2 linked regions of the Homo sapiens genome follow. The protein of the gene in region 2 purifies or fractionates together with the protein of the main gene of each other region. This does not show direct contact. Each region holds a gene or a part of one and is shown on either strand. Other genes may lie near its edges. The genes, in order: ROBO1 and ROBO4.

Evidence for each region.
Region 1: the proteins of ROBO4 (region 2) and ROBO1 purify together in Homo sapiens (co-immunoprecipitation; one study listed by IntAct). This does not show direct contact.

The regions. Positions count from the first base shown.
Region 1 is NC_000003.12:78,634,313-78,638,137, forward strand, and holds part of ROBO1 (roundabout homolog 1 isoform a precursor), read right to left. Parts: intron 1,797-3,825; coding exon 1,461-1,796; intron 1-1,460. UniProt on the Homo sapiens protein: Receptor for SLIT1 and SLIT2 that mediates cellular responses to molecular guidance cues in cellular migration, including axonal navigation at the ventral midline of the neural tube and projection of axons to different regions during neuronal development.
Region 2 is NC_000011.10:124,891,366-124,895,190, forward strand, and holds part of ROBO4 (roundabout homolog 4 isoform 1 precursor), read right to left. Parts: coding exon 3,716-3,825; intron 3,005-3,715; coding exon 2,836-3,004; intron 2,681-2,835; coding exon 2,495-2,680; intron 2,366-2,494; coding exon 2,323-2,365; intron 768-2,322; exon of another isoform or gene 438-767; coding exon 301-437; intron 198-300; coding exon 1-197.

The sequences.
Region 1 (3,825 bases), on a different chromosome or scaffold from region 2:
CACAATACATAAAAATAAAACTGAAACCTGTCAGCAAGGTTATATCTAATAAAAAATATATCTATGATTAAAAAAAACAAATATCTTAATTTGCCCCAGAAATGCTTCTGCTTACTTAGGCAAAGGTGAAAATCCAAATGATAAGCTTGCCACTGGAATGTAGTCAGTAATAATCTGTCGTCTAGTTGCATTCCAGGTTCTTTATTATGGTCTGACATACCAAATCTGCTTACAAGCAGTATAAACAATAAATCAGAGTTCTGAAATATTTGTGCGGAGGCTCTCAGGGCTTTCCGAAGTCCACAGTAAAACAATATACTATGAAGGAATAATGTGACAATAGTTTGAATCACCACTGCAAACTCCATGATTACAGAAACTGTCCTGTTCATCTTTGTCAGTTTTTGTTATGAACTTATGCAGGAGTCTCGATCCATATTTATTAAATTGGGTTATTATACCAATCAAGTACTTTCTTAAACTTGAGAAAAGCCTAGCTGACTTCATTCTCGAGTTAAAACATAATATTAACTTAAATGAAATTTTTAAGTTATATTTTTGTCATCTTCAACTGTGATAAATCGCATTTTCAAAGAAAATGTTCCCAACCCAAACCTAAAGAAAATGTCTATGTCTCCAATTATCTCCAGTGTATTCTTTACCTGGAATAGGTGGGGATGCATTGCCCCCATCTATTCACATTAGAGCAATCCTGGTTTTCCTAGAGGTATAACTTTGCAAATCATGATATTATAGCAGTAGCCTAAAGGACTACAAAGAAACCAAACACCTATCTTTTCCAACTCATACACATTACAATACAGAAACATTTCCTTCAGGCCACAGAATACTATTCTGCGGCTTCAAGTTAATACTAAACTCAATTTATTTTAGGTTCTATACGGACAGACTTCAATCAGGTCAACCAAGGAAATTTAGGTTCTAAAATTATACACTGTAGCAGTCTTAATAACCACACGAGGTGGGAGACATACAACAAATTGAACCACTTCTCCAGTTCAAGTTTAATTTAATTATTTTATTTCAGGTTGATATAAAAATGCCATTGGTTTATATAACCACATAGAAGCAATTATCTTCCATCCTCTAGTGGAAAGAATGGGATAGTCTATTTATTGAAAATGCGAGGTATTGTGACAGTTGTACATCTGCCTCATGAATAAAAGATTGTCCGTCCCAATCCCTCACCTGCTATTAAATTTAAATTAATCTCAAAACCATTTGAAAATACTTATATATTATTATAAAATAAATTTTCCAAGGTTATTGTTGTGCTAATTAACTCTTTGACACTGGAAATTTTGAAACCAAAGAAATAAGAAAATCTCAGCGACAGAAGAAAAGATTTTACTTGCTAGTCGCAGACAAGTTTCAACATCTAGTCGAGGTGCTGAGAGTATCATACAGAAACAGATGGGAATACATGCAAGCCTCTTCACCTTTGTTCAGCTTGTTTTGCTCCACGATGTTGTACTGAACTGGTGCCACTTCTTGTTTCTGCTGTCCCAGTGGTTTCCAGTGCTTCTCGCCAGAGTCCCCGCTGCCATTGTTCATGTTGTTGCTGAGGTTTGACTGGATGAGCTGAGTGGTGGCGTAAGGAGTAGGCTGCCCTGATGGATTGACAAAACGCCCATCCTTCAGATTTGGGCTATTGAAGGTTTTCATCTCATTGATTTTGTTACTAAGGTCCACATCACCATAAACAGTTGACTCAGGGAGCATCAGATTTGTTTGTTTGTTATCCAGTTGGTTGTTATAATTTGCTATACAATCAGCTATGTGCAATGGAGAGGAAAAGGAAAAAATCATTCTGCGTGGTTATTCCTTTTAAATTTCTTTTTACGTAGCTTTGCGAGTCATCAGAAAATCGTTATGTAAAGTACAAGTGGGCTTAAATAAGATCAATAAAAACGGCCAAATATCCACATGTGCTTTCTAAAGAAAATTAATAATTGAAAAAATAAAAGAGGGTACACAGAATTTGTAGAGACTAAATAAATTTGAATTTCTGATAGTGCTGAAGTAAACAATTCATCCAATTTAAAATAATTTTCATTTAATAACCTCATTAATAGGAATTCCACTAAAATAATATATACATGTATATCTTTATGTGTCAACTTTTTATTTTCTAGTCTTTGGTTACTGAATTATTTGAAGCTACTGGTTAGCTGCTGAAGCAACAGACAAAGCACATAAATGAAAAATCCAAAGGAAAAAACTATTCATAGATCAAAGAACTTGAGATTTTGGTATTTTATAAAATACCTACATTTAAAAGATATGGGAACAGGGGTAAAATGATAGTAAATGGTACTAAGGAGAATTCTATTAGTTCTTGTTGTAGTCCTGTTGGATAATCATTATCCGGAAAACATGCTATATAATTATTTTCTCATGGTTTCATAATGACAACCAAAGAAATATAAAATGACAATAATAATAATAACAAAAGGAATCATAGTAACCTGGGTAATTGAATCAAATAAGCCTGAAATAATACTTAAATATCTAATATCTCATTTCCACTCCAGTTTTCTCTCTATTGAAATATTTGGACATTAAATAACTGAATATACATACATAATATATACATTCATTTTATATATATATATATATATATATATATATATATATATGGCCTGCAGTTGAAAATATTAAAATGGTAGGAAGAACTGAAATCATATTTTTAAATTAAAATAGATTTTAAATAGAAAAATTAGTTAAATTACAATGGTAAAAATGTCATTATTTTATGCATGTTGTCCAAAAGTGGTACCAACATTAACAAGTCACCTGTAGCATTGGTTTTTAACTGGATATGTTTAAAAATTATAAATTAACATGTTTGTTACTAAAGATGTAAATGTGAATATAATCTTAAGAAAAATGTGTAATTTCTCTATCCTACTGAATTCAACTATTCTGCATTTCAACCATGAACCGTCAGGGAACAGAAATATTTGATTCATCTGGACTTTGTGATTCTTATTTCTAATTTCTAGTTTTGTTTAACAGTGGTTAAGAAATACTATAAAGATCATGTGGTTTTTGCATTCTCATTTTGTTTCGCCAATCTGTCTATATTTGTGTTATCCAACAGAACTTTGGAGATATTGGACATGGTCTACTCCACTTTGTCTGATACAGCAGCCACCAGTCACACGTGGCCACTGAGCACTAGAAATGTAGCTAGTGCAAAAGAGGGACTGAGTTTTAAACTATATTTTATTAAATTCAATGTAAATAGCCATCTGTTGCCAATGGCTACCATATTGGACAACACAGCTCTACCTATTAAATGGGTATCGCCATTTTTTCTCTCCTATAGGTCTCAACCCAGTTTTTCTTGTACTTATGATTACATGAGTATCTATCTGTCTAGACATTCAGAATATGGGCCTCTAGAGGACAGAGACTTGGTCACATGGATACGTCACATCCACGTCCAGTGGACACTCAGGATTCGCTTTAAGGGCAGACATGCAGACTGCTCTATGATTTGTTCTTTATAGTGCATAGCATCTTTACTTAAATCCAACTTCTCTCTCGCCTTTCCGTAATTCCACAGGTTATTTTACTTCTATCATCATAGAGATTCCATACAATAATTTTAATATTTCCTATATTGGCAATATTGGGTTTTTTTTTGGGGGGGGGAGGGGTTGTTTGGTAAGAAATCTTTGGTAATTTTTATTCCTTTAAATCTTGCAGACTGTACATCTGATTTTTTACTATTATGTTTTGGCATGAAATTTTAGCAAGATAATTTACTCACACATACATCTGACTCAAAAAACAAAC
Region 2 (3,825 bases):
GCGGCTGCAGAGGCTGTCTGAGCTGGAACAGGGGCTGGAGAGCTGGGCCAGCTGGGGTGGGAGGCGCCTGACAGCTGGGACCTGGGGACTTGGCCTGGCTGGGGTACTGGAGGGCAGCTCAGCGATGAGGGAGCCATAAAAAGTGCTGGTGTCTGGAAGCAGGGGCACGCCGGGGCTTCGGGAGTCCCAGGAGAGCACTGTGACATAAATGACAGGAGGAATTATGGTGAGCATGTCCTGCTTTCCATCCCTGAGATCACTGCCCCCAGCTAGGCCCTTGCCCCCACTGAGCATGCTCACAGGAGCGACGACAGTCTAGTGGGTCCCGGGCATCCGCCCCCAGCCGACTGCTGAGGCTGCTGCTGCTGCTCAGGTCCCGAGAGCCAGAGGTGGAACGCCAAGTGTCTGCCAACCACTGGGAGTCACTGTGATCCATCCTGGGGCAGTGGAGGGAGGGGGTGAGGCCAGGAGAAACAGGGAGAAGTGAGAACCTTTTTGGCCAAGACTTCCTGTTCAGAGGCAGCAGAAGAGGGCAAGGAGATGGTGGCTTTATCCTTACTACTGCTTTTCAGCTTTTCACAGACTCCTTAAGATCTCTGACCTGGTCCCCTAAACCCAGCACCCCTTTCTTATTCCTGGATGAGGGGAAATCCGAGTCACCCAGAGCTGGGAGGTAGTAATGACAGACAGCTATGTATGCTGAGGTAAAAAGAAGACCTGAAGACAAATCTGGTTTGACAATCTCTATCTGTCACAGCTTAGCTTGGGTAAGTACATCTGTTGCACTTGGGTAAGTACATCCTCTCTAAGCCCCAGTTTTCTCATCTGTAAAATGATGGCAATAGGGCCTTCCACACTCAAGACTGATGGTCTGGGTTTATATGAGGAAATGTGAGATCACTCAGCTGGCAGAGCAGGAGCTTGCTCCATGGATATTGGCCTCTGGCTGCCTGAGTGATCCTTCAAGAACAGGGATCTGAGCAAGGAGCTTCTCTGCGTAAGACCTTCAATGGCCCCTCATTTACCATGATAGAGCCCAGGTACCTAGCATGGCTAAGAGGACCTTCCTTGGTCTGGCTTCCAGCTCCCTAACTATAGCCTTTGCTCTGACCCATCTCACACCCTATACCCGAGCCAGAACAAATGGTTTGTCTTTCCCTGTGGACATAGCAGGCTATTACTTGCTGCTTCATTGCTCTTCTCTCCATCCCCTTCTTACTGTCAGGGTAATGTGGAATCTTCTTTCTCCTATGTTTTTCCACATTGACCCCCTCCATGTGTCTTGTACCTGCTTCTGCGTGGCCAATACAGGATTGCACTCATATCCCCTCATGCCTGTCTCTGCCTACACTGAGAGATTCTGGCAGGTGGAGGCTATTCCAAAGGAAAGAATGAACCAAAGATCAGAAGGAATCTCCCTCAAGGACAGAGCAGGAGATCCTAGGGAAGCCACAGAAAGCTTAAGGCAGAGCAGACAAAGCCAGGAGGTAGCTGGAAGAAAGAAGCCAGTGAGCTCAGAAAACTCAAAACACAACACCAGCCAGCTTGGACCCCTGCTCTGGGCTGAGGACCTGACAGTGAAATGGCAGCTCTAGGCCTGGATTTGCTGGCACATAGTAGGTGCTCAGTAACTTCTGTGGATAGATGCAGACCTGGAGTGGGAAGCCTCCCAGAGGAGATCTAGCGAAATAAAGAGCCAAGAAGGCAGACAGAGAGATGAGGCGGTTACTTAGTACAAAACTCAGACAACGGGAGCAAGAAGGATGTGTTCTCTATCAGCATGATGTCCCAGAACTGCAGACTTGTTCTGGCAGCCGAATATACCGGAAGCAGAAGGGCCCATGGGCAGATCCTGTTTTTGAGAACAGTGAGGAAGAATCTATGATGTAGGCACTGAACACCCTCTGCTGGAGCTGCGGGTGGACTATGATGTAGGCACAATGGCTCAGTGAGAGAATTACTGAGTGCAAAGGCACTACTTGGTAGACCATGGGTGCACGCATAAGATGAGACATTTGAGGTGGTCGTCTCATGCTGATTATTCTCCACCTAGCGGGTGAGGCAGCAGGAGAGGTGGGGTGACAAGAGTCCTGGATTGGGGGTTTAGAAGGTTTTATGAGTTTCAGTTTACTAGTCTGTCAAGTGGTGTGATAGGAATATTAATGACAGAGAAATGAACTATCAGTTGGAGTTACAGGAGAGATTCATGTACGACAGTCCCAAACTCCCTGGCAGGTAGACTAGTACTCCATTCTTCTCTGTTGCAGCTCCACTGTCCCTTGCCACCCTCCCTTACTTCAGACCTCCCCTTTCACCTCTCACCTGTGTTTTAGGATGGCATCCTCACTGGTATATCTGTACAGACCTGGGAGAAGGCAGGAGGAAAGCTAAATCCAGAGGCTGGATCACCTGGTCAGAGATCCAAAGCCCCTGCACCATTCTGGCTGGATGCTGAGGAGGCCTGTATACATGTGGGTCCCCCTCAGACTCTCACCTGGGCCCAGGTGCACCCTAGCTCGGCGCCGGCGGTGGATACACACGGCGGTGCCCAGAAGCAGCAGCCAGAGTGCAACACCGCAGGTGGCAATGACCTCAGGCCGCTTCAAGGTAGCCCTCAGCTGCTCCAGGGTCCAGGGACCATGCTCACTGGGTTCTTGGGTGGCTCGCTCCATGGCCTGCTCTGTATGGGATGCAGAGCTCAGAGGGAGAGGGAGTCGAGGCATTGAGGGCCTGGCAGGCAAGGGGGAAGAGCTGGAAGTGTGAGGCGGGAGCAGGGAGAGAGGAAGGCGGGATGCAGGCTGAAGGGTAGGGTGGGTCTGTGGGCACTGCCCTCACCTAAAAGGAGGCAGACAGGTCTACTGGGCTCCCCAGCTCCAGCACCAGTGACTGCAGCCACTTGCACGCAGTAGGAGCCTGGCATATGGGTGGCGATTTCCAGCTGGGTCTGCTCACCAACTACAGTCCAGTTGGCTGGTGGCAGTGATGTGTTGCCCAGGCTCCAGACCTGAGGCACAAGCAGAGGTGAACAGCTTCCCCAGGCACCATCCCAGAAGCCAAGCCCTTTATCTGCAGATCAGACTCCAGGGGTGTGGTTATTCTGCCCTGCCATCCACTTGGGGAATGCACCCAATTTCCTATTCCCCTCCTATTCTCCCTACCAAGTGAGAGATACCTCTCTCTAGATCAACAGTAGAAGGGCACAAGCAAGCTGCTAAAACACATGTAACATAGCAATTCTCAAACAACAGCGTGCTTCCAAGTCACCAGGGGGGCCTGCTATAGTACAGTTTGCCAGGCCCATCTCTGAGTTTCTGATTTATGAGGCCTGGGAAAGGATCTGAGGGTTTGTATTCCTAACAAGGTCCTGGGTGAGGCTGATGTTGCTGCTCTAGAAGTCAAACTTTGAGCCCCACTCCCTGACTCACAGCCTGGTTTGATCTACTCTGTTTCTTATTCCTGTGGCCTTTGCCCCACTTTCCATGTCTGTAAATTGGGGATAATACCCCAGGGTGGACTGTGAGGTAAAACGGGATCATGGAGGTCAAGTGCTTGGCAGGGTCTGGAAGCCAGTGGGTCCTTGCTCAGCAAAAGCAGGTTTCCTTTGCTTCTCTGCCCAGGTACCTTTCTCAGTGCCCAGAGCAAGGGTATGCAGAACTCCAGAGAAAAGAGATGTCCTGGCAGCAGTAGGAAGGGCTATGACAGCTAGTGGGGGTACCTGGTAGCCACGGATGATGCCATTGTGGTTTTCAGCAGGTGGTGGGACCCAGCTCACAAAGACAGTGCCATTGCCAGGCTTTAGAGTCACTTCCTGAGGTGGGGCACTGG